2 linked regions of the Homo sapiens genome follow. The protein of the gene in region 1 interacts with the protein of each later gene in a pairwise test. Each region holds a gene or a part of one and is shown on either strand. Other genes may lie near its edges. The genes, in order: TRIM49 and MINDY3.

The links.
Region 2: the proteins of TRIM49 (region 1) and MINDY3 interact in binary tests that used the Homo sapiens proteins (3 or more experiments, as listed by UniProt).

What each region holds. Positions count from the first base shown.
Region 1 is NC_000011.10:89,803,631-89,816,835, forward strand, and holds the start of TRIM49 (tripartite motif-containing protein 49), read right to left. Parts: upstream 4,946-13,205; 5' UTR 4,807-4,945; intron 3,655-4,806; 5' UTR 3,469-3,654; intron 844-3,468; 5' UTR 840-843; coding exon 429-839; intron 164-428; coding exon 68-163; intron 1-67.
Region 2 is NC_000010.11:15,778,515-15,790,976, forward strand, and holds part of MINDY3 (ubiquitin carboxyl-terminal hydrolase MINDY-3), read right to left. Parts: intron 10,806-12,462; coding exon 10,733-10,805; intron 8,135-10,732; coding exon 8,047-8,134; intron 7,946-8,046; coding exon of another isoform or gene 7,940-7,945; exon of another isoform or gene 3,720-7,939; intron 3,713-3,719; coding exon 3,641-3,712; intron 2,453-3,640; coding exon of another isoform or gene 2,363-2,452; exon of another isoform or gene 1,335-2,362; intron 628-1,334; coding exon 478-627; 3' UTR 1-477. UniProt on the Homo sapiens protein: Hydrolase that can remove 'Lys-48'-linked conjugated ubiquitin from proteins.

The sequences.
Region 1 (13,205 bases):
CTATTTTAAGAGTCACCCATTTGCCCACCATAAGTTCCTGGAGAAGGTAGAGTAGTACAGGACTAACCTTCCAGCATCTGGTTCTGGTGGTTTCCACATTCAGGTTTCTGTGATTTTCACAAGCTTTTTCCCACAAAGACTGCATTTTCTGTAAAAGCTTCTCCTGCAAAAGAGCCATAAATTGAAGCACCAGTGCAGACCATGACATAGGGAGGGGGCCCAGAATGAGAGACAAATAAGCCCCTAGTAAATGGCATTTCCTTTGTTTCCCTTCATGTTTGTCAAAGCCCAGAGGTTGGAAGCTAAGAAAGCCCAAACAGAGCTGCTTAAAGGGACTCAGAGTTGGCTTTATCCAATCTCCAAGAAAATAGACCCACAGGAATTTTATGCTTCCTTTACAGAAATCGATCTTCAGAGCCATCACTTACCCGGTGTTCCTCAGCAGCCCACTCAATGGGACGGTGTCTGTGATACCGGTGCTCCTGAGAGCTGGAGCACAGCAAACAGAGCAGGCTCCTGTCCACTTCACAGAATATCTTCTTTGTCTCCCTGTGAGTGCCACACATTTGCTCCTCAGAGCTCAGGAATAGCCAGAGACTGACTTTTCTGGCAAGAGAAGCCATCTTCTTCAAATGAATGTTGGTTTTGAGGTTTATCTGCTCGGTTGACTTTGTGCATTCAGAGCACTGGACAAGAAATGGGATGTCTTGCCAGTTGAGGTAGAAACAAGGCCTGCAAAAGCTGTGCCCACAGTCTATGGTGACCGGGTCTATGAAGTAGTTCATGCACAGGGGGCAGATGAGTTCCCCCTGAAAGACCTGTAAGATTCCAGAATTCATGTTTCTGAGGAACAAAGAGAAACATGTCATTTTGGGGCCTGGGTTGATGAAAACCTTCTAAACATGTGGAGATATGTGATAGTTATATTTTCTTCTCTTGACAGTGTTCATTAAAGTACAACAAACTATTTCTTCTGTTACAAACTTAAAAATTTACACTTAGAGGGAGTCTCCTGGCTTTCTAACAGATATTACTAACCAGAGGACTCACAGTCCCTTCTACTCCTAGTTCCTGTCTGTAGCATAATACAAACCTATTCAACTACCCATTTTCTGAACATAGATCTGGAAATTGGGTTTTGATTCTAAGTGGTCAGAATAAATCATAGTTGTCCCTATTCTTCTTTCAATAACTGATGAATGACTGTGAAAGAGTGGGAGGGAAAAAACTACCCGGGCCAAAGAAATATGAGAAGATGGCCAAAGAAATATGAGAAGATGGTTCTATGACATATTTTTATAGAGAGTCACAAAAGCCGGGCAGCAAACCACCATGGCACAAGTTTACCTACATAACAAGCCTGCAAGTCCTGCAGTTATCCCAGGACTTAAAATTAAATTAAATTAAAAACAAAGACCCAAATCAAAACAAAATTTAAAAAAAAGCCAACCAACCAAATAAACAAAGAAAAAGACTGCAATTAAACTAATCAAGTTTCACTAGTAGGGAAAAGAAAAATTATTAAAGATATTGGGTCTTTTTATTTTCTTGCGGATTAAATTAACTTCCCCTAGGGCTGTGCAAGCTCTGAACTAACATATAGGAGGTTTTTGTTAAACTCAGAGAGGTGTAATTATATTTCCATAGTGTGATGGTGAATTTTAGGTATCAGTCTGACTGGATTAACCAACACCTAGGGAACTAGTGAAGCATTGTTTGTGGGTGAGTCTGTGAAGGTGTTTCTAGAGGAGAGAGACATGTGAGCTGGTGAGCTGAGTGGGAGCCTCATCTCTCAATGTGTGTGGGCACCATCCAATCAGCTGACACCTCAGATATAAAGAAAAAGGCAGAAAAAAGGCAACTTCCTCCGTCTCTCTCCTGAAACTTGTTCTGAACCTTTCAGACTTGAGCTTAGCCAGGATACCGGTATTCTCAGGACACCAGCTTAGAGACAGCCTATATTGGAACTCTCTAGACTCCATAATCAAGCAAATTAATTTTCCTGATGAATTCTGTCCCATGTAGAATCATGTATAGCTTGTGGACAGATGTATGTTCTGAGAAATGTGTCAGGTGTTTTTAGTTTTTTTTTGTTTTTTTTTTTTGAGACAGAGTATCCTTCTGTCACGCAGGCTGAAATGCAGTGGCGTGATCTCGGCTCACTGTAACCTCCGCCTCCAGGTTCAGAGCGATTCTCCTGCATCAGGTTCCCAAGTACCTGGGATTACAGGAACGTGACACTAGGCCTGGCTAATTTTTGTATTTTTTTAGTAGAGATGGGGTTTTGCCATCTTGGCCAGGCTGCACTTGAACTTCTGGCCTCAAGTGATCTGCCTGCCTTGGCTTTGCAAAGTGCTGGGATTCTAGGCACGCGCCACAGTGCCCAGCCCGGCGGTTTCATTGTTTTAATATGATAGAATATACCACACAAATCTAGATGGTATAGCCTACTACACCTATGGTATACACTATAGCCTATTGTTCCTACAATAGGCTACAAACCTGTACAGTATGTTCTGTACTGCATACTGTAGGCAACTGTAACACAATGATAACTATTTGTGTATCTAAACATAATTGAATACAGAAAAGGTACAGTAAACATATTGGTATTATAATCTTATGGGACCCCCATATGTGGTTTGTGGCTGACTCAAATGGCCCATGAATGTATCTGCACACATATATGTATACATCCTATGGTTCTGTCTGGAGAACCCTGACTAATATAAAAACTATAATCTTTGTTTTGGCAATTTTAAATCCTTTAGCATAAAGCAGCATAAAGCTGCTAGTTTTATATCACTTCTGAATTTAAGTGAAAGCAGTGAAAAATCTTAGAATTGCAAATATTTTCCAGAACTCATCTAAGACATTTTAAGAAATTTTTCACAGTTTAATAAGATTGAGACTCAAGTGAGATGACAATCACAATCACATACCATATTAGGTCTTATAAATTTACTTGTTCGAAAAATTGTGTTTTGATTTCTAAAGTAGGATATTTTGGGGAGCTTTCTCATTGTTTTAGTTTCACTATTTTGCATCGCTCATCATTACCTTACTAATTTAAAGTCATGTCTAAAACCTGAATGTTATGAAAGCAAATAACTTCATCATTCATTAATGTCTTCTCAATTCAATTTGACAATATTAATACACTCATTACATACATATACACACACACCTATGTGTACATATATGTATCAACTCCATATATTCATTATGAATACATATCTGTTGCAGCAAACACTAGATATTTTAAGTTTTTCAGAACTATATTAAACAATCATAGAAAGCACAAAATAACAACAATTAGTATCCTTATAATTCATAAAATCTATAGTAAGAACATGAGTTACAAATGGTATCATTGTGTAGATTTCAGATAATGAGATATTTTTAACACTCTAATTTATTATTGTGTAAAGGAAAGATGATATAATTTTATCAATATGTTTCACTCACCCTGGAGTTCTTTTAATGGTTCCCACAACGATTTTTCCAAAAATAATTTTGTTAAGTTCACCTCAAGATCAGAAGCTCATTCACTGCAGTACTGAATTTCAGAGGTCGCCAAAATGCAGTTCTAAGTGCAGTCCTTCTCCTTCAGAGAAAACTGAGCTTGTCTCTTCCGTGTCCTTTTATAAGAACCTGTGAAGACCACACCCACCTCTTTATGGGTATTTAGAGCATTCAGAAAGGTGGAGACAAAGATGATTAGGTTTATGCAGTATTTAGAACACACCTTTGCAGCTCTGATTAAATTATCATCACACTTTCATTCTGAACACCAGTGCCTGAATGAATCATATGTAACATAAATCCTGTCAGAGCATACATAGGCTAGAAATTAACTAAGATGCATTTTATACTGTTTATTGAGTTTCTTCCATGATACAGGCATTCCTCTAAGTGCACATTTATTTATTCTAGAGAAAGGGTCTCCTTCTGGAGTGCAGTAGCATAATCATAGCTCCCTGCAGCCTTGAATTCCAAGTAATCCTCCTGCTTCAGCCTTCCAAGTAGCTACGACTTTAGGCTCACACTATATCACCTGGCTAATTTTTTTTGTTGAAATTTTTGGTAAAGTCAGTGTATGACTCTGTAGCCCATGCTGTTCTCCAACTCCTGGCTTCAAGTGGTCCTCTGGTCTCGGCCTTCCAAAGTGCTAAGAGTACAGGTATAAACCACCTCATCCAGCTTAAATGCTGCTTTAGTACATTTATAGGATATTTCCAGAGAAGTCCAATGGAAGATAAAACTTTCCTTTTTGTTTTCTGTTTTCTACCACTCTAAGAGAAATCACTGATTAACCAAATAAACCCACTAACCTGGGGTCTCTCATTGAATTTACAAAACTTCACCAGTCTCATGGGTGAAAGATGAGTTATGATTTTAACGTTTTTCTCCATATAGTGCATGATGTCCTACAATGACTAGGAGTGCACCACGGGAATTATTTTGGGGATTACACATAACTTTTAGCATATAGGCAAATTCACAAATACAGAATCCAAATGATAGAGATGGACTATATTTTTCTTTCTATGCCAAGTCTTTTTGTTGTTATATGAAAATTATTTTTTTTAAAAAAGAGATTTCAGAAGGGACTACTCAAATATCTTCTGATAGAGGAATTCTTTGCCAATGGTCCAGAAGACTTATGGTCAAGACTGTCAAAACAGTGAAGACAAATCTATCAGACCCAGGTCTGTCCAGGTTCAAAGACAAAAGCAGAACCCATAAGATATATGTATAGTTAGGGAGATTCACATATGAATTAAGTGCAAAGACTTGACTTACCCAATTGTGGGAGCTGCTTAAGCAAATGTGAGATCCTGGGTACAGTCCATCAGGAAAAGAAATCCCCCGCTGGCTGGATCCCAGTGGTCATGAATCAAAGCTTTGGTTTAAAGTCAATAGGGGGCAACTGGAAGATTAGAGTCCCATTTGCCATTTAAAATGTTGTTCAAGGAATGCCTATGTGTTTCTTTAAAGGACTTTCACTGATGAAGTCAGGCTTACTTGGGTACACTTCCTAGTTACAGGATTAGGACCTTTGCTCGCATCTGCAAAATGCCTTTCCAGCAGGTCCTAAGTAAGTGTTTCATTGAAGAATAATAAGGTATGTCTATGCCACAAAATGGCTACTGCCCTCATTTCCCTCTTTGTACATACATGTACTCAAGTTGACACATCATAAAATCATCCAGAGTTTATATTTAATTAAATACAAGGAATTGAACAATAGATTTTCTTGTTCTATTGTCAGTTTACTATCCAAGACCACCAACTGACTGACCACCCTGTATGCACATTCTGTACCTCAATAAATCTAAGTAATTAACCAAAGTGTCCACACAGAAGTAAGATCTGCGCTGGTTGTGTGTGGGGGCCCTCTTGGCTCAGTCCTGGACTCCAGAGTGGGAAACTTGTGAAACCCTGGGTCATGGACTTGATCCTGTGGACATTCTCTGCTTAAATTCTGGAGCTCCGTGGCGGGGCCCTGGTACTCCATTACAAGGTCTGATGATGCTGTGTATCAGGAAGGAATTAGGGCAAGGAGAGAAAGGAAGGTAGGTAGCTTCTGATTTTATTTCAACCACTTTTTGCACCACATCATTCACTTATTCAAACACTCAGCTTTAGGCAGTTGAAGCCTAGAGCACTGGAAATTAGGAGCTTTCAATTACAGACCTACCTCTGTCTACTGTGGCATTATCAAGGAAACAACCTATTTTCCTACTTGAGTCTCAGACCATGAAACAAATATAAGAAAGTAATTCTCTTTAGAGTTGGCATTTTGTAGGTTCCAAAAGTCCTACCCAATCCAGAAGAGAGAGTAGAGGTGGGTATAGGCAAGAACAATCCGTGATGTGGATAAAGGACACTCCAGCCAATTTGGAATATTTCCTTATTTCCCAGTGCTTCTCCTTTTAATAAAAAAGATACTTTTTTGTACATGAGACTGTTTCCATTCTAGCATCTGAAACCTACCTCTACCACAAAGTTTTCTGTTGAATTACACATCTATTTTTGAGAATCTGGTAATAGACTCTTTTGTTCATCTGGGTTCTAAAACTCATTGGAAAATCTTTGTATGAAAGTTGGTGATCTATTTCTCGTTCCTTAACATATGTAGAAATCTGACTTTATTTAATTCTGGAAATTTTTAAATTTTTATAAAAATGCCATTCTATGATAAATACCATTTAAAACCTAGGTATTATAACTACTTTGACATTTTGTTTGTTTTATTTGCGCACATGGAGAGAATTCTGCATATTTTTTCCCATGCTAACAAAATTTATTAATTTTCCACAAATTTATATTTTGCTTTGTGGATCCTGAATGTCCAGGGCTATCTTTTCTTTAACGCTTTTTTTTTTTTTGGCATTTCTTCTCAATTGTTTTACCCGTTTATTGTCTATTTTTCTACAAACCCCAGTCATTTTCTCTTGAAACCTCTTATCTATTTGAGTGGAGAGAAATATGTTAGAAAAAGGAAGGGGACAATGTGATACATGGGCTATGATGTACCAGTTACTGTGCTGTCTCCATGCACACATTGTTCCTAATCTCCACAGAAAACATGCAATATGTGTAGCATTGTCCCAACTTTACATATGAGCACATAAAAGGTAAGCTTTTCGTTGTTGTTGTTGAGTCCGAGTCTCACTCTGTCGCCCAGGCTGGAGTGCAGTGGCGGCGTGATCTTGGCTCACTGCAAGTTCCACCTGCCGGGTTCACTCCATTCTCCTGCCTCAGCCTCCCGAGTAGCTGGGACTACAGGCGCCCGCCACCATGCCCGGCTAATTTTTTTGTACTTTTAGTAGAGACGGGATTACACTGTGTTAGCCAGGATGGTCTCAATCTCCTGACCTCGTGATCCGCCCGCCTCAGCCTCCCAAAGTGCTGGGATTACAGACGTGAGCCACCGCGCCCGGTCGTAAGCAATCTTTTTATGGTCCTGTTTCCTGTATGGGATGGATTCAGGGATCAATTACATGTCGTCAACTCCATAAATCCTCAAATCTCTCAACGTATTTTCTCACTTAGAGCCACAGAAACACATATGATTCCTTCTGTGCTTGTGTGTTCAGGTGAGGTTCAGCCTACATTCTGAAGTTTCTTCCTCTGATGAATGAAACATTGAGTTCTTGAATATAGCTACATTATCATTAGGCTGTAAAAATCAGAATCAAATAGGTTTCCTTCCTTGAGAAAATAATGGAGGCAACAGTTACAAACAGCACTCTAGGTTTTAGATTTCAATCATGTTTTTCCTTTTCTATTCTTTTTTCTTTTCTTAGAGACAGGGTCTCACTCTGTCATCCAGACTATAGAGCAGTTGCTGGATCATAGCTACTGCAGCTTCAACCTCCTAGGCTCAAGTGATCCTCAACCTCGGCCTCCTGAGTAGCTCTGACTACAGGCAGACACCCGCACTTCAGGTTAGTTTTTAAATTGTTTGTGGAGATATGGTCTTCTTATGCTGTTCTGGCTGGTCTCAAACTCCTGGACTCAATCCTCCTGCTTCGACCTTCCAAGGCACTGGGATTACAGGCGTGAGCCACGGTTCCCAGCCTCGAAGCATTTTCATAGCAAAGAGTTAACAGAACATTTTCTTCTCTAGATTCAGTAGACACAAGATTCTTATATTTTATTCTTCCCATATCTGGCTGTGTATCCTGTTCGCAGACATTACATTGCCAAATTTGTTTTCCATTCATCTTTCCTAGCACAGTATAGAAAAACGAGTACTGTGGAGTAGAGTTTTCACATTCTTTCCTGAACCCTGCCAGTTCTAATGGTGCTCATGGACTTAGCCATTTCCCTTCACTGGAATCCATTCTTGTTTATAAACAACAGTAAGTGTTGTTTATAAAATTTCCAAGGAACAGAGCAGAATGTAAGGTTAGCATATCTTGTGTTTTTACCTCCCCTAAGCCCAAAGGATCATGAGTACTACATACAGAAATCTTTCCTCCTTACCCCTGTCACATTCTACTTGGATGCTGTGGAGAAATAAACCCAGTGTATCCCCTTCTGCTATACAAAATAATACTATTTGGCTTAAACTGATGTTTGTAAAATTTCATCCACAGATTTCAGTCACATTTTCAAATAAATCCATTATAAAACCATGTAATACAAGTTGACTGTTTGTTATTCACAATGTTAGGGCCAGAAGAATTTCAGGTTTTGGATATTTGTGGATTACAGAATATTTGCATAGACATAATAAGATATCTTGTGTATCAACCCAAGTGTAAACACAAAATTTATGTTTCATATACACCTTATACAGATAGGCTAAAGATAATTTTAGACAATATTTTAAATAACTTTATTCATGAAGCAAAGTTTGTGTACACATGCCATTTTATTACCCTTTGTGAGTGCTCTTGCTCGGGGGCATCTAGGTGGACACAGAAAGATATATTGCAACTGAAGGGGCTGGGAGAGTCTTTTGTTCACTGAGAATATGTTTTGACTGTAACTTCTCATATGAGGTCACGTGTGGGATATTTCACTTTTGGTGACATTTCACAGCTCAAAACATTTGAGATTTTGGAGTATTTTGGATTTTTAGATATTTTGATTAGTGGTGCTCAACCTGTATGTTATTTCATCTTTTTTTTCTCCAGGTAGGAATGGAAAATGCATTTTTGTTTTTACTTGTATTACACATTTTTTCCAACTCAAATTCATTATGCATATTGTTAGATGTCTTCAAATTTTGATGAAAAGTCTCAAGTTATATCAATTACTATTTTCAAAAATTGTTTGTAATAAGTAGATTAAATACCATGATAATCCACAGTTAAAAAAATAAACACAAATTCATGTGCTTGTATTCCAGTTGGGTTTTTTTTCCAAACGATGAGCATTAATGAAATACTATACCTTAAAACCTTTTTCTAAATATATTTGAGAATATTGTTTGAAAGTAAAAAATTGAAAAGGACTGAACATACCATAATAAATGATATTTGTGCTTAAGAAGGCTGTCTTTTTCAGAGATTATTTATAAAATAAAAATACACATTTCTAACCTTGTCTCAGTTAAGAGCTTGTTACTGATGTGTTACTTATGATGTTGAATGTTGTTAGTCTAACAGGATGCACTGGTAATAGGACCCTGTCAAGCTGAACTTTCCCGATTTAAATGCTACCTCACCATTCCTGTGCAGTATGTTTTTATTAGAATTCTAGCAGTATGTATTTTATATTGTGACCTAAATAACAAGCACACACAAAAATGATTTCACACTGTGTATGCCGATGTATTTTAAAGTCTATGAAAAATATTGTAGGTATCAGCAAGTAGAACACTGCTTCATACATAGAAAGGGACCAATTAATGCTAAGTAAATGTTATTAGTTACTTAAAGAACTTTGCATTATGTAAATACATCCAAATCAATTATTATTTGGATGGTAATATGATAGCAAACCTAGATGCAGATTTAAGAAGAATATTGAGCAAGAATGGGTTAGGAGGGTGTGAGGAGTAGGCCACAGAGAAAGTTAATACCTATAATTTGCTGAGTCAGAGTTGAAAGCACCTATAGGCTAAGTGGATACCTCCCATTCTGACCCATTTCAGCAAAATATTTGAATCTTCCATGTTTTTCATAATTCTGGGAGTTTAGAAAATGCTTTAGAGAAGTGAAAGAGCCACTATATTTTATATTCGTTTATTTATTGTGTTTGGTGATTTGAGAATTTCTCTAAGTCACCAGAGATAGAGCTTCAGAATATTAATCTCAGGATACAAATCTATTTTTCAATTTTATACCCGTACATAACCCATTCTCCAAAGGTGACCCCTCTGTTAAGTGATAGTAAATTATCTTCAATGTCATTTAAGTTCACCAGTTTCTTGTGAAATGTTTTTAACTTTAAAAAGTTTAAAAACACAAAAAGCCATTCTTTAAAACTAAACATGTATAAATCAAGTTCTTAAAAACCAATCCAGCCTGGGCGTGGTGGCTCAGTCCCAACACTCTGGGAAGCCGAGGTGGGTGGATCCCTTGAGGTCAGGAGTTCAAGACAAGTCTGATCAACATGGCAAAACCCTATATCTAATAAAAATACAAAAATTAGGCTGGCATAGTTGCACGGACCTGTAGTCCCAGCTACTCAGGAGGCTGTGGCAGGAGAATCACCCGAACCAGGGAGGCAGAGGATGCAGTGAACTTAGACAGTGCCACTGCGATTCAGCCTGGGCAACAGAGTGAGACTACATTTCAAAATAAATAAATAAATAAATAAATAAATAAATAAAGTCTTCTACTCTTTAAAAATCATGGAAAATCTAGTATTGTAGATAAAAGCAGAAAACAAAATAGTTCTTCATATATTTTAGGTTTTAATAAGGAGTCATTAAAAGATAATTATAAAGTCACTTTATGTGGACTTAAAAAGGTAACATCAGGCCGCTGTGGCAGCTCATGCCTGTAATCCCAGCACTTTGGGAGGCCAAGGCGGGTGGATTATCTGAGGTCAGGAGTTCGAGACCAGCCCTCTCTACTAAAAATACAAAAATTAGCTGGGCATGGTGGCAGGCACCTGTAATCCCAGCAGAAGATTTGCTTGAACCCCTGGGGTGGAGGTTGCAGTGAGCCGAGATCCTGCCACTTCACTCCCGTCTGGGAGTGACATTGTATAATGACATCAGACAACTGATTTAGTTATCTAACATTGGAATGTATTTGTAGAAGTTTTTTTAAAATTTTAATCGATAAAGCAATTATACAATTAAATAGAGCCAATCGAAAGGATTAGGTTTTGCCTTTGAAACTGCAGAATCCTAATCTTCTATTAAGGATGTATCCATGCATAGTGTAAATTTTTTAAAAAATACGTAAATAAAAGGAATGTAGTGAAGTGTTTTAAGAAAAGTTTCTAACTTTGGAAATTCTACACAATGTACATGTAACAAAGTTCAGTCTTCCACATTATTAAAAAAAATAAAAAACCTCAGCGTTGGCCATTAGGATGCCAAGACATATCCAGTGAATGCTCAATTATAAAGCATCTAGCCTGGCTCACTTTGAAAACTTTTCTTCTAAAATTGTCTTCCTGGGGCCTTTAATACTTGACTCTAATTTATAGTTCTAGAAACTATTGAGTTTAGAGAAAGTAAATTCCAATCCATCCTTTCTAAAAGAACTTAAGTAGGCTTAGGACTTTCTTCCTAAAATGTATGAACATTGTTGTTCAAGCGTGTCATCGCATCACATTGAGAGGTGGACACAGGAAAGGAGTTTGAGAAAAGCCTAGGCAACATTGCGAAAACTCGTCTCTCCAAAAAAATTAAAATTAGCGGAGCATGGTGGGATGAACCTGTAGTCCCTGGTACTGGGGAAGCTGAGGTGGGAAGATTGCTATAGCCAGGGGGGTTGACACTGCAGCTAGACAGGATCCAGCAACTGCACTCCAGCCTGGGTGACAAAGCCAGACCCTGTCTCAAAAAAAATATATATAAAATATCTCACTAATATTTGTAATGTTTATTATGTTGAAAACATTTTGGATATATTGGGTTATAATGTTTTATTAAAATTAATTTCAATGGTTTCTAATTGTTTCAGATATCATTAGAAAAATGCATTCCCTCCCCTCTCCGTTATAGTTTCCCTGAAAATACATGCACTAAAGAAAAACGAAGAAAGTATGTTTTATTAAATAATATTCAAAATACAAAACAAAAAAACTTTTGAAATGTATTTAAGACAATGCTTACAAAACAATGTATATCATTAAATGCATCTGTTATTAACAAAGAAAGGTCTGTCGCAAACAGCCAGAAAATTAAAGCAAATTCCCATTAAAAAACTAAAAAAAAATTAGAGAAATTGCAGAAAATTGATTAAAAAGCATGCAAAAGATAAATCAACAAATTCAAAAGTAGGCTCCTTAAATAGATAAATTAAATTAATAAATTCCCAATGAGATTCATTTAAACAATGGAGAGGGGGAGTTCAAATCAAGAATAAACAGGCAAACTCATGGTCATCCAGATATCAATAAGCCAGCATGAATATTTTAGGAACAATTTATACCTATACATCTGACAATTTTGATGACATGAGAAAATTTCTTGAAAAACACAGCTGACTAAAACAGACGGAGGAGAACATAGAAAAATGAAAGATATGATTTGGATTCTTAAAATTCCGTGTATTATTTAAAAAACAAAACTCACAAAGAAAACTCCAGTGATCTCTTTCAGCGAAATTTTCAAAGCATTTTAGAAAGAAATAACACACTTTTAGACAAATTCTTCTAGAGAACAAAGAAAAAGCAACACTTTCTAACTTATAACTTTGTTTTTCTTTCATTTTTTTCTTTCCTTTATTTAGACAAGTTCTCCCTCTGTCACTCAGACCAAAGTGCAGTGCATGATCATAGCTCATTGCAGCCTCAAACACCTAGGCTCAAGTGATCCTCCTGCCTGGTCCTCCTGATTAGCTGGAACTACATGTGCTTGCTTCCAGGCCTGGGTAAAAACATTTATTTTTAGAGACAGGTGTCACCCTATGTTGCCTGGGGAAACCTGGAATTCCTAGAGTCAAGTGACCCTTTTGCCCAGCTGTCCAACTAGCTGGAATTACAGACAGGAGTCACTGAACTCTATTCAAAATTAGTTTTCTGTATGTACTTTGTTAAAGATAATTATACACATAATTATTGTTTAAATAATTATTTATGACATTGCATCATATTTTGATATAAATATACATGCTGTACATCTTCTACATGTCCATACATATATACTGATGTAAAGTATCTAATTTAAAATTATTCACCATGGCGTAAAATCAAAAAAACACATTTTATTTTTGCATAAATTCACCTTTGAAAATAGTCATAAAATAGGGAAGACAACAAAAAAATTAGACAAGTAAATTCACCAACTGTTGTATATAGAGTCATAGTATTTAAAATACAACTAAGTGCCTAGGTGCACTTTTTTATGAGAGCTCCATAGATGGGTTAGTTATTTCATTTAATATTTTAGAGTTGTACATATTCAGATAAATAATGACTGGAGACTTATTTAACAATGATATATTTTAAAACTAGACTGACACTTCACTGGCTTCCCATAATTTCTAGATAGCAAACTCATCTTTTCCATGTTCTGATGCCCGTACCTGCCTCTGCAGCCTCATCTCCCATCAGACCAC
Region 2 (12,462 bases), on another chromosome or scaffold:
GTCAATATTTCTAATGAAAAACAGATCTTAGAAAAATGAACTCTTCTGCATTTCATTGTAGAGGCTGATATATTACAAGCCGGAATCATTCAAACAATAAAAAAAGTGCCTCAATGAAATAAAACCCAAAAGTAGTTTATCAATAGTAACTGTGATACTTAATATACAAATGCTGTAGTATTGCGTTTGTAATTTGGTAAGTAAATGACCAAGTATCTGAATGCAAAAGTGATGAACTTTGATGAAAGCTTAATTTTGCTAGTAAATTTCACACGAAGGGGTAAAATAGGATAATCTTTAACATAAAGCTTTAGGACAAATAATTTAAACATATCATAAACACTGAAAATGTGTTTTTAATTGTTATTTACAGTTAATCAGTGATACCAGTGTTTAGCTTAATCCAGCCAATTGCCAGTCTTGACTCCTTCTTTCAACATCTGTTATTAAGATCTTCCTTATAAATACTTAGACAAATTAATTTAGTGAAGGAGAGCGATCTGTGGTCCAGAGTAACTCAATGTATGGCCATTTGGTTTGCAGACAGCGTTTAATAGGAGTGTCATCTGTCTGTAGCATGGGATCTTCAAAACCCATCACAACTGCAGTCCCTTCTACGTACATGACCTGTTGAACAAAATAAAGCCACCAAGGTCAAGCAACAGTCTTAGCAAATTCTTATGTGGAATGAAAACAATTTTTAGAGGCTAGCAAATAAGGTATTACATAGTTTCAGATGAAACTTGACATGTAATTTTATTTTGCTAGAAATGAGAAGGAATATCTGCTTACTGATTAATGTGAAAGTAAATTTGTAAACGATATTTAATTGCTAGCTGGCCAGGTGATTTTTAAAAAATTCAAGATCATGTGAATCCTAAAACACATAGATTGTTTCTAAGAAAAAAAACATTCTTCAACGGATCTATACCATCGGAAAGAAATGCTTAATTATCATATTTACATATAATTTATACAGGTCCTACTGCTTTAATACTGAGGTTCTCAGATGCTCATGCTGCCTAATGAAACGGAGAGCTATAAAAGGAATATAGCTATTATGTTCTGAGGAACATGTGTCTCCTTCTAATTTAAGTATTGAATTTCTAGAGCTGAAACCAATTTGAATGTTTGTCAACAAAACTTGCTATTATGGTATTAAATATTCCTGAAATGCAATTCATGAGTGCATTCTGTACAGCATGAAAAATCATGGAGAAAAAAATTAAAAAGGATGTCAGGACAGAAAGAAAAGTAAAAGAGACGTTGAAAGATCAAACTAACCAGATACTGTATATGCAGTGGCAGTGATCACAGAAATATATACTGGCAGGTGAATAGCAAGAAAAATTTTATTCTGATTAATTTACAATGAAACATACTTAAAAAGTATTTTGGACATATCAACAAAAACCCTAACTCATTACCAAGGGCTCACTGTGGACATTAAGGCACTCCTTGGTGGTTAATTTCTTTTTTGTACCAAGAGAAATTCTGATGCTGTATAATTTAAAAGAAACAGATACAGACGACTGTCTTCTTCCAAAGTGTATAAAATTATTTTTACACATTCACTGGCTGATACACATGAGTGTAATTATGTTCTTCCAAAATAAAAGCCATAAGCTATTTAAGGAGCCAAAAGAAACAACTTTATTATCCTTAAATGGTAGTTGCCTCTAAAACACATTAAATATAGGAATAGAATATATTACTAGATCAGATAATCTTGTGTCATGAATCTACTCATTCCTAAGAAAGTGCTAAAGATACATTGTAACGTGAAATACATTTTTTGGCATCTTTATTTTAGTTAATATATTAGTTTCTAGTGTTGATGAAATAAATTGACATTGAAACTACAACTCGGGCTTTTCAGTCCCCAAAGCAAAACTGCCTTCTCTGAAAAGTTATACACAAAGAATATAATTCAAGTTATTAAGTTAAATACAATCGGCCCTATTTTTCACAAAGAACTTCATGTACTCATGTCATTAGAGCAGAAGTGCTTGGGCAAGGTGCCATGACCCACCTCCATGGCCTCAATCAGGCTCGGATGCCTGGCGGCTCAGACTCCATCTCACTTTGCCAGCATTCTCCTTTTGTCTGTTTCCTTTCTAACAGGACCTTGCTATGCAGCTTATAATTTTAGCTCCTGATTAACTTCAAAACATATTTCTGTGACTTAATGACATCCATACTTTGCTTTATAGCTGCTGTATATTACTGTCATTTTAACAGTTCATCCTATTTGTTTTCTAATCTTTTTGTTGGTGTGTCAGAAGCTTGTCACAAACATGATTTGAAAACTTATACTACATACAGGTAGAGTGGCCAAGCAGACCAAGGACAGGATTGGGAATCAGGAACTCAGTTCCAATCCCTGTTCTGCCAATGACTTGCTGTGTGACCCTGGGTGAGTCACTTGATCTCCCCGTCTCAGATGCCTCATCTGTAAAATATGGATAATATTTGACCTATCTTGCAGGGATTGTGTAGGTGAATAATTAGTGATTATAAAGTACCTCCTATTACAAAGCTGTGCAAACATCAAACTCTAGATGAAGCACTCATTCGCACATTAGAAAACAACATCCAAGTTTGCATATATATATACATGCAAAGAATATACATTGTCAAGAAAATTTGGATGCTGTATATATATATCTTTGGACCTGACAAAAACATCTAATTTATATTTTGTTATAAAGATAGCAGTAAATTTTAGTCTTTTAGATTTGGTCTAATTAAAATTATGTACTTAATTTACACTGTTTTCTGTAACCTTCCACAATTTAGATACATGAAGTCAGCATGGGCAGATCAAATTAAAAAGGAATGTTAGACCTTATTCCTTTAATATTAGCTATAACTAATACATATATATTATATATATATATATATACTATAACTAGTATGTACTGTAACTCATACTTGAATAAATGCAAAGATAATAGACACACAAAAAGGGGAAATCAATGCAGCCGAACTCTAGCTTTACGCCAGGTTGAGTACACCTGGCAGTGAATCACCTATGTGCTTTGTCAACGGTTAGCAAAGGAAAGCTGCAAAGCATCATGGGTAGGAGCATGGTCTCTGAGCTGGACTAAGTTTCACTCCCAGCTCTGTCATTTCCTGGCTGCTTGACCTGTAAAATGGAGATATACAGACAACACTTCCTTCATAAGGTGCTGTGAAACTTAAGCAAAGTACTTAATACAATTTCGGGTAAATGCTCAATATATGCTGACTATGAAGGTTATTTATTTAAAAATATTTTTTCCAGTAAAAAGTCTCACTGTTACCTCTTTCTTCCTTTAAATGGATAAGTAACAACTTTCACTGGACTAACTACGATGTTGATTTAGAAACACGCTACACTGCCAAGGGTAACGATCTGTATGGGGGTGTATTTAGTCATGGTGAAACTACTGCTCTGAAGTCCAATGTCAGTTTCCAATGCAGACTAACATATACTGGTCAAATCCAAAGATGGCTGATTCTAAAATGTGTCCTCATAGTAAAGAGACTCCTGGAATAATCTTAGGTAGCAATTGTACGGGAATCGAACATTGTTACATACTCACATAATTATTTCATCAACCCAGTTGAACACCGACGACTACGTGAATTATCATACCTTTTCATTATAATTTGACTGCTTCAATCCATTGTAGTGGTAGACAGTAAAAGATTCTGGACCACTGGAGCCCTATTATAAATAAAGGACTATTAACACTTTAAATTATATTTATATCAGGCAATTTCTAATCAACTGAAAGTAAAATGCATGTTTCTCAAATCCTTATCCTTTGACTGGGGACTCATTTGACAAAAGAAGGAACTTAGGTTTATGGAGTTGTAACTACCAGAAAGCCCTGAAGTTGAAAGTGTTGCCTCTGAAGAAGATGCTGGAAAGTAGGGAAGGTTGATTTCCATTATAAGCTCTTCAGAACTAACTTATTTTTTTTTTAATTATGTGCATGTATCACTATAACTTTTTTCAAAAGACAAGCTTCTAAAACATTTGCTAAAGTATATCTCCTTTTCTATGTAAATAATTTGTTCCTCTCAATGAATTGAGAAAAGCAGTAGCATCACTTTTACTCAGACTAAATACACTTCCAGTATGTACCAATACTTCCAATTTGGCCCACGATGTTTAATTAGTGGTTTCTTTTCCAAAAAATATCCAATATTTGAATATTGTCAACCATTAATTAGTGAAAAGAGCACTGTGAGAAATGAAAACATACTTATAATGCTTAAGGCGATTTCAGTAATATTCAATAAAGAAAGGATATCCTATATATCACTAACAGAGTAAGCTTGTAGAAAAATGGGTCATGTTATTCCCACTATCTTAACCTTGCTTTTCAATTAGCTAAAGATCACGTTCAACCCTCTTAACCTGGCGTTCAAGGCCATTACAGGCCTGGCTCCCAGTGATTTCCCTCAGGGCCCCTGGCTGAGTCTGCCTGGATAGATCCCCCTTGTCTTCCTGGCCATATCCGATGGATACAAACAGGCACATGGCCCTCCTTAGAATTTTTTCCAACTGGAATTAAGGGAAGACAGCTGCTGGCAACTGGAGCTTCAGCTCCTACAGAAAGATAGGCTGTGAGAATGTAGCCACTTTAGAGACAGGGGATGGGAGGTGGAGACCTCCCAGTGCTGTTCAAGGACTCCAGGAGCACTTTCCCGGTGCTTGCTTCTTCAATTCACCTGAGCTACTCCTTCCCCTTCATGTATTTTCCCCCTCACTTATGCCAATTTAGGCTGAGGTTCTGTGACCTGCAATCATGAGTCTTAAAATCATACAGGGCTTAATCTACCTTTTTAGTCTTATCTCCAACTACTCACCTTTCTGAATTCTGTTTTGGACAAGCATGACTCATTTCATCATGAAAAGATCTTTTGTTGGCCTTTTGCACATTCATGATTTTTTTTTACTCTTCTCTAAAATGCCCTCCTCTCCTTCCTTTTTCCAGACCTGGTTTAAATCTTACTTTTTCTGTAAAGTTTTTCCTGGACACACTAGTTAGTTTTTTACTACACTGGAACTTAACCTTTATCATAACAATTGTCTAAATAATTTGAGAAGGAATCATATAGTACTACTTTGTATCATCTCTTCTATTATTTTGAAAGACTGTTTAATTTTTCATGTCTTACATTCCCAACTAAAGCCTAAAATTGTTTTGTATCCCACTCAAAATGCCTTACAGAAAATAGAAAAATCAATTTGATCGTTTCCTTAATTACAGGAGTCATTGCAATTAGTTACATAATTTGACTCTTGGCTATCAGAGTTAAATTATTTGAACTTAAATAACCATTTTCCTGTAACTGAATATAATTTATATTCCCTATTTCCAGTAATTAACTGGCATAAAATACAGAAATACCAACAAAAAGTAGTGTAGCCCACTGGTAAAGTGCATAGACTCTGTGGTTAGACAGACTATATTGGATTTCTGAATCAGCTACTAAAATACCTAGTGTATGACCTTAAACAATTGTCTTAAGTTCTCTAATCTTCAATTTCCTCATTGTCAAAAAATTCCTGAATCAGCTACTAAGATACCTAGTGTATGACCTTCAACAATCGTCTTAAGTTCTCTAATCCTCAATTTCCTCATTGTCAAAATGGGGAAGATAATAGTATGGTGTTTGGAAGGCACACAGTGCCTGATGGAGAGTATGTGCTTGGGAAAGGGGAGCTGCTTCTGCTATTCTTATTTAAACGAATGGTCTTGAAAAGCTTATAAATATTACCACTTTTTTCTTCCTGCATCAGCCTCTACATCATAGCAAATAAGTGTTCTTCCACAGGACCTACTTGAAGCATTGTAAAGATTACCGAAGTTAAATATTTTCCTGGCTGTCCTTGTCACTCCAGTTTTGCAACTTCATTTATTTGTGGCTGATTAAATAAATGTTTACTGGGCCTCGTGAGGTGGCTCATACCTGTAATCCCAGCACTTTGGAAGGCCAGGACGGGTGGAACACCTGAGGTTAGGAGTTTGAGACCAGCCTGACCAACAAGGTGAAACCCCATCTCTACTAAGGATACAAAAATTAGCCAGGCCACCATATGTAGTCCCAGCTACACAGGAGGCTGAGGCAGGAGAATTGCTTGGACCAGGGAGGCGGAGGTTACAGTGAGCTGAGATCGTGCCACTGCACTCCAGCCTGGGTAAAGGAGCGAAACTCCATCTTAAATAAATAAATAGTTTACGGAATGATCACTATATTCATCTGTTAGGGACAAGGCAGTATGTGACTAATTGCCAAAAGGAGTGTTGAGTCACTATGCATTTTGTGGCTACAGGGGAAAGGGGACATCAGTGGTATGTAGGGCATGATCGGAAAAGATCTATGACACCGAGGGCGTCTGAGCTGCTATAGGATGGGAACAGATGGGAATAGGTGGGACTGTGACAGGTCTTCCTCTAAAGCAGCTGTTCTCTAACTTGGGCCTCCAGATCACTTGCAGGGCTTGTTAGACCACATTGCTGCACCCACCCTTAAAGTCTCTGCTTCAGGGAGAAACCTGAGAATTAGCATTTCTAACAAGCTCTTGGAGATCATACTGAGAACTCACTGCTCTAAAGGTAACCAAGAGCAGGATCACATGCTCGTGGGAGGCAAACAGCATGAACTATACAGACAATGAGACAAACCAGGCCCAGGTGGAGAGTGTCTTCAGAATAGCAGGCAACAAGTAAACAGTGAGAGAGGAACACAGAGGCAACAAACAGTACAACCAAATGGAAATGTCTGTTACAGGCGAAAGAGAAGGGACTAGAACCCTCTTTTTACCTAAAAAATTACTACAAGTAACTGTCTCACTTTACATTTCTCACTTTTCAAAATCTTCCCCAAATTAAATTAAAAACAGGAATATTCTTTTTATTATAACTAAGAATCAACATTTCTATCAAAAGTTCCGATAGCAGCCTTGAAATATAATTAAAATTAATACTGTCTCAAAGTTTAAGATGGTATAATGTATTATTAATCCAGATATCCAGTCAGAATGTGAACAAAGAGGATATCACACTGAAGGGTCTAATGTCGGACAATAAAATCTAATTTTTCATGAAGGCTTTAAGACCAAAGTTTTAAGAAGTCCAGTAGTCTACATTGTCTACATTGTGATATCCTCAGTTACTTTTTGAATCTTACCTCTTTCTTAACAATTTTATCTTGAGTTTAACAATCTTTTTTAACAATTACATTCTGAATTTTAGTAATTATATTTTGAAATTTTCCCTCTTGCTTTTAAATTTTTTCTATTTGTCAATATGTCTCTCTAATAATAGCGGTAAAATAGAAATTGGAATGTCTATTGCAACAATGAACTTCAGTGCAAACTATACTGATATCTGATAAAATGACCATGATATCTGTTATCTAGTTAAGTAATTTGATTTAGTGGTAAAATGCTTCACTTAGAGAACAAAGACAGAAAGATGGGTATTGGATATAGAACTGGCTTGCCAATGATGCAGATACAACTCAAAAACATTCAGGTTGGCCCAGATGCCTCTGCTATTCCAGGTAACTGAGCTCCTATCAAAGCCCAGTGGAAGACATGTCCCAATGGGAAACGGCCCAGACCCACTTAGGTTTTAATTCTCCAGGAGCTTAGCTTCACTAGCTAGGGGCTTCTACTACCCACAGCCACCTTGACCTCTTCTCACAGTATTTAACAGCTTCCTGAGAGAAGAAAAGTGGGGGTGGGAGTGGAGAAAGAGAATCTTTCTCTTTTTACTCCTCAAACTTCCGAACTGTTCTCTCCGTATCATTATGTGTATAGACTGGTGTCTGCGTCATCTTCTGCTGCCCTCCCCATCAAGGCACTGCGTTACCGTATTCGAACACACATTCCCTCTGTCTGGGAAGGTTTCCATGTAACGGTGTTTTCTCAGTCTCATATCTGCGCATTAGGACATTGTACAGAAAGAGAAAATGCTGCAAACAATCACAGGTAATCATCCCAACAGAATAACAATGAATATATTTCCTCAACTATGTTACCTGATCAGGAAAAAATTCTTGAAGAAATGGGCCCAATAATATGATTCCTAATCCTTCTGGATCTAATTTATTCTTCATGAGATTTATACTACGGGGAGAAAGAAGAAAAACAGTGGATACCAGAGGAAAAAAAAAAGCTGCTTTTCTTTCATGATTAAATTACTGGTACTACAACACATTCGGCTGCCAAAAACACTAAGAGCTGTTCTTTTTAGAACCTTAATGACAAATACACAGGAATGACATCTAATTTGCCAAACTTGGTTATTTTTAAACTAGAGTAATCTGTTACTATTTAAAATTTAAATTGTGATGACTTTGGAATATTGTTCCTTATTAGGTAAAGTAATTTAAAAACCAAGGTTTATAAACTCAAGCTTGTAACTTCCCAAAGGCAAATTCTCTTTGCTTCATAGGTATGCCTGAATTTAACAAATGAGGCATTTAACTAACAAAATGTTTTTCTTTTTCTCCTTGGGCTTAAAATACAGGGTCAAAAGGCAGTGGTACATCAGATAATAGAAAACATCTCTTAAAAAGCTTACTTTTAAAAACTAAATGAGATAGCAGCTTAAAATTCATAGACAATGTAATTTGAAGGTTAAAGAGCTACATTAATTCTCAAAGAGCTAATGCGTCATGAATGACAGTGACTGATATATACTGTATTGGTCCAGCAGCAGCCTAAAGTGCATACCAGCCCTTACAATGCAGGTGTACCAAGGCTGGTGACAGGTGGTGTTATGTGTGACTAGAAAGAAGGAAGAAGAAGGCAGAAGAAGGCAGACTGCAGTTTAATGGGTTTAAAAATGAAAATAGTCTTCAGAAAAGTTTTATTTTCCTTGCTATCTCAAACTATAAAGGCCAAGTTAAATCTACCTTACTACACAACATGCAAAGTGTTGTGTTTGGGGATTTCAGGTGGTTCTAGTCAACCACCTTCCTCAGGGGCAACTTCTCTCCTTTCAGTTTGCCTCTTCGGTCTGGGTCAGTTACCAGGTGTGCCTTTCACAAAAGGAGTTAAAGCTATTCTTGTGAGGGTAAGCTATGTTTTAAGGTTTATGAAAGCTGCATCTGCGCTGACATAGCCATCTCTCCCGGAAACACCTGGGTCAGGCTGCCTCACAGACCTCCTACCTGACGTCTAGTATTGGCCCTGTGAGATACTTTTGTGGGCCTGTGGCTATCATTCTTGTATAGTATACTGTACAAAGGATATGGCATTTTAATGAGTCTGAGTAAGGCCGGGAAGTTATGATGAAACAAATGAAGGCAGGGTCATTTGTGTTTAATTCATTTAATCCTTAGGATGGCCCAGTTATTTCATGGGCCATTCTGTATTACAGTTGTAAATAGGCCAAAGTAGAGTGAATACTTCAGTCCAATCTTTCAACTACTTCAAGAAAAACAACCTGATTGAATCAATTGTACTAACTTCATGATTCAAGGTACGTTTTCCATCTGATAAAACAAGGAAAATTAGGTAGATGATATATAGCTATGGAAGAATTTGGAAAAAAAAAAACTTTCTTCTTTCTCTTCCTTGTCTTAGGCTGGTCAGTAACAAAAATTACTTGAGTTAATTCTCTTTTGTAAATTAGAGCAGTGTAAACAACATGGTCTCTACTTGGAAATAAAGTTAGAAGAAGTATAGTAATTACTATCATACCATTTGTTGGACTAGTTCAACACTCTGAATTTCTCTTTAAATTGAAAACAATTATTCATTTATTAATATTTCTAACTATTGAGAATGGATGAAATCACAGCTCTGAGTAGTAAGCTTGAGACACATTAATTCAGATGTGGCTAGTTTATGTGTATTGCATACTTTCAAAGAAAGTATGACTGAACTCATCTAAAAACGGAACAAGACCAAATTCTAAAAACGGTGTCTACCAATGTTTCCTGTTGCTTTTGCTGAACTCTTTCATTATGTTTGATAAGCTCAAGTTTTTGCATTCTTAGAAAAACTTGCAGAAGGAAAAACTATGCTGAAAAAAGGAGTAAAGGTCCTATCTTAACTTTTATTCCCATATTTGATCAATACATGTATCCACTTAAGAAGAGTTATTTTTTCATGGATAATAACTAAAGATCTTAATCTACAGAGGAAGTTGTAGATGTAACAATGCATAAAACATAACAGTGAGAATGAAGACAATGACAGGATCCTAAGAAAATACTGAAAAACGATATGCCATAATATATTGCAGCCATCCCTAAAAGTTTCAGGTCAGTTAATTTAATCATTTAGAAATGTTAGATATCTTTGATCATCTTTATTTAAGAGGGAAAGTCAGAGGCCTGCTGGTTATTTAAGCAGGGCAACTAGCACCATCTACACAGAACCGTCATTACTTTACTGAAGATACTAATGTCACATAAAATTTTAAGACGTGGGGAAGTGTTTGCAGAGAAACTTTTTAAAGTTTATAGAAAGACACTTTTAGCATTTTTTAAAAAGCAGGACAGTAATTGCTGGGTGGGAAAGGAAACTCAATTTAAGTATGTCAAGTCTGCTATAATATTGGATTAGTTCGATTTCTTAATCTTTGCCTTACATAGATTGCTATGCTTCATATATGCAGATATAGATTTTTAAAAAGGCAAAAAATGTACAATATGTCTTAAACTTAATCGAATCTTTTTGAGTTGGCTAAATAACACTTCCTATTTAGCTTACTATTCAGGATCTGAAACAAGGTCCAATGCTTTCATCACATCTTCCAGAAGTGAATCGGGTATGAATCCATTATCTAGGGGGGAAAAAATCAGAAACAACTTGAAATAAGAATTTACTTCAAGAAATGCTATTAATGCTGATCAGGTTCCAGGAAAAAAAAATCGCATAAAAAATACAAAGAGTTAACATACTATTCCTTAAGTTTATTTTAGGCATAGTGCCTATTGCTATTAGAGACCCTCTTCTATTTGTTTTCTTGGAAACATCGGCAAATACTTAAAAATATTTTTTAACTTGAGAACTCCGACGAAAGCTTAAAGTCAAATTACTTGATCTTTAAACAGTGTTACAGCGTTAAGTGGGTAAAATATTTTTCTACTTAAAATCTTAGGTTTATCTTTCAATAAACAAAGTAAACCTTTACATTTGCATTTAACAATTCAATTAAAATAATTCTTTACCAACAAATTCCCTTTGTCACAATGTTATTTAGTTTCTTGAAGGAATGTCAGTGATCCACTGATACTTAGACAACTGACAGATTAACAGCAAAGGTATTCTAAAACAGACTTGGTGATTTAAATGAAAGCTGTAGGTTTAAAAAAAACAGCCCTGAAATGAAGAGTCAAACTAATGCTGATGATGACTACTTTATGGAAAATGGTCCAAACTCTGATGATGCAACAGACCATGACACACACAAAGTCCTTGTGGGGTAGTTTGAAATGAGAGTGGTTTTAAACAAAAGTTGTTTATTCCTTAAATGTACAGTGCCCAATTTTCCCTATCCATTTACTCATTCCTGAAGATTGTCTCAGCTTTAAATCAGCTTCCAATGTCCTTCAGGGATTAGATGATTAAAAAAAAAATCTTGCCATGGAGAACAAGATGTCCAAAAGCCCTGCTCCTATAATCAAACTACAGAATAAAGTGTGCAGTTGCTCTTTCAGGGTGTGGAATTGTACACTATCTCTATCAGAAAGGAATGAAGTTATGATTGTAGAAAGGTCTTTTCTATTCTTAAACCTCTTTTCTATTCTTAAACCTCATAAGGAGCTGTTTACCCATTTGAAGACAGATTGGCCTTGACTAAAAGGTTATGAGTCATCTAGAATAATTAAAAATGTGCAATTTTTTAAGTGAAGGGTTTAGAGTAATTCCAGTTTGTTAAGTTACCAATAATTTGAGGTACTGAGAATAAAGACGACCTTGGTTGAAGGCACTTGTGAAAACATTCAAGCTCTGGCTCTGTGGGCTTAGCTTTGATGAGTCTGATCACTGATTTTGCTTAAGTTAAGTCATAGCTAAAGGCTCAGCGTCTCCGAATGTGAAACAGGCTTTATGTGGCCACCAACAGACAGGAACAATTAGGTTTCTGTGTTTATAGGCTATATCCATTTGATATTACAGGTGGAGTCTCCCTCATCCAAAATGCCTGGGTCTAGAAATGTTTTAGATTTCAAATTTTTTCTGGTTTATGAATATTTGCAAATATATAATGGCTGAACATCCCTGATCTGGTCCAAAATCTGAAATGCTCCACGGTGTCATATTGGCACTCAAAATTTTGGAGGATCAACCTTTCGGGTGAGGGATGCTCAGTCTGTACACCGTTTTTCAGGAGCACTGACAGCATGTACTTTGTCATGGCTGGCAGCCTTTCCGCAGAAACCATAACCTGCAACTCAGTTCCCACCCCAACCAAGAGCTAATTGGCAAATGACAACAAA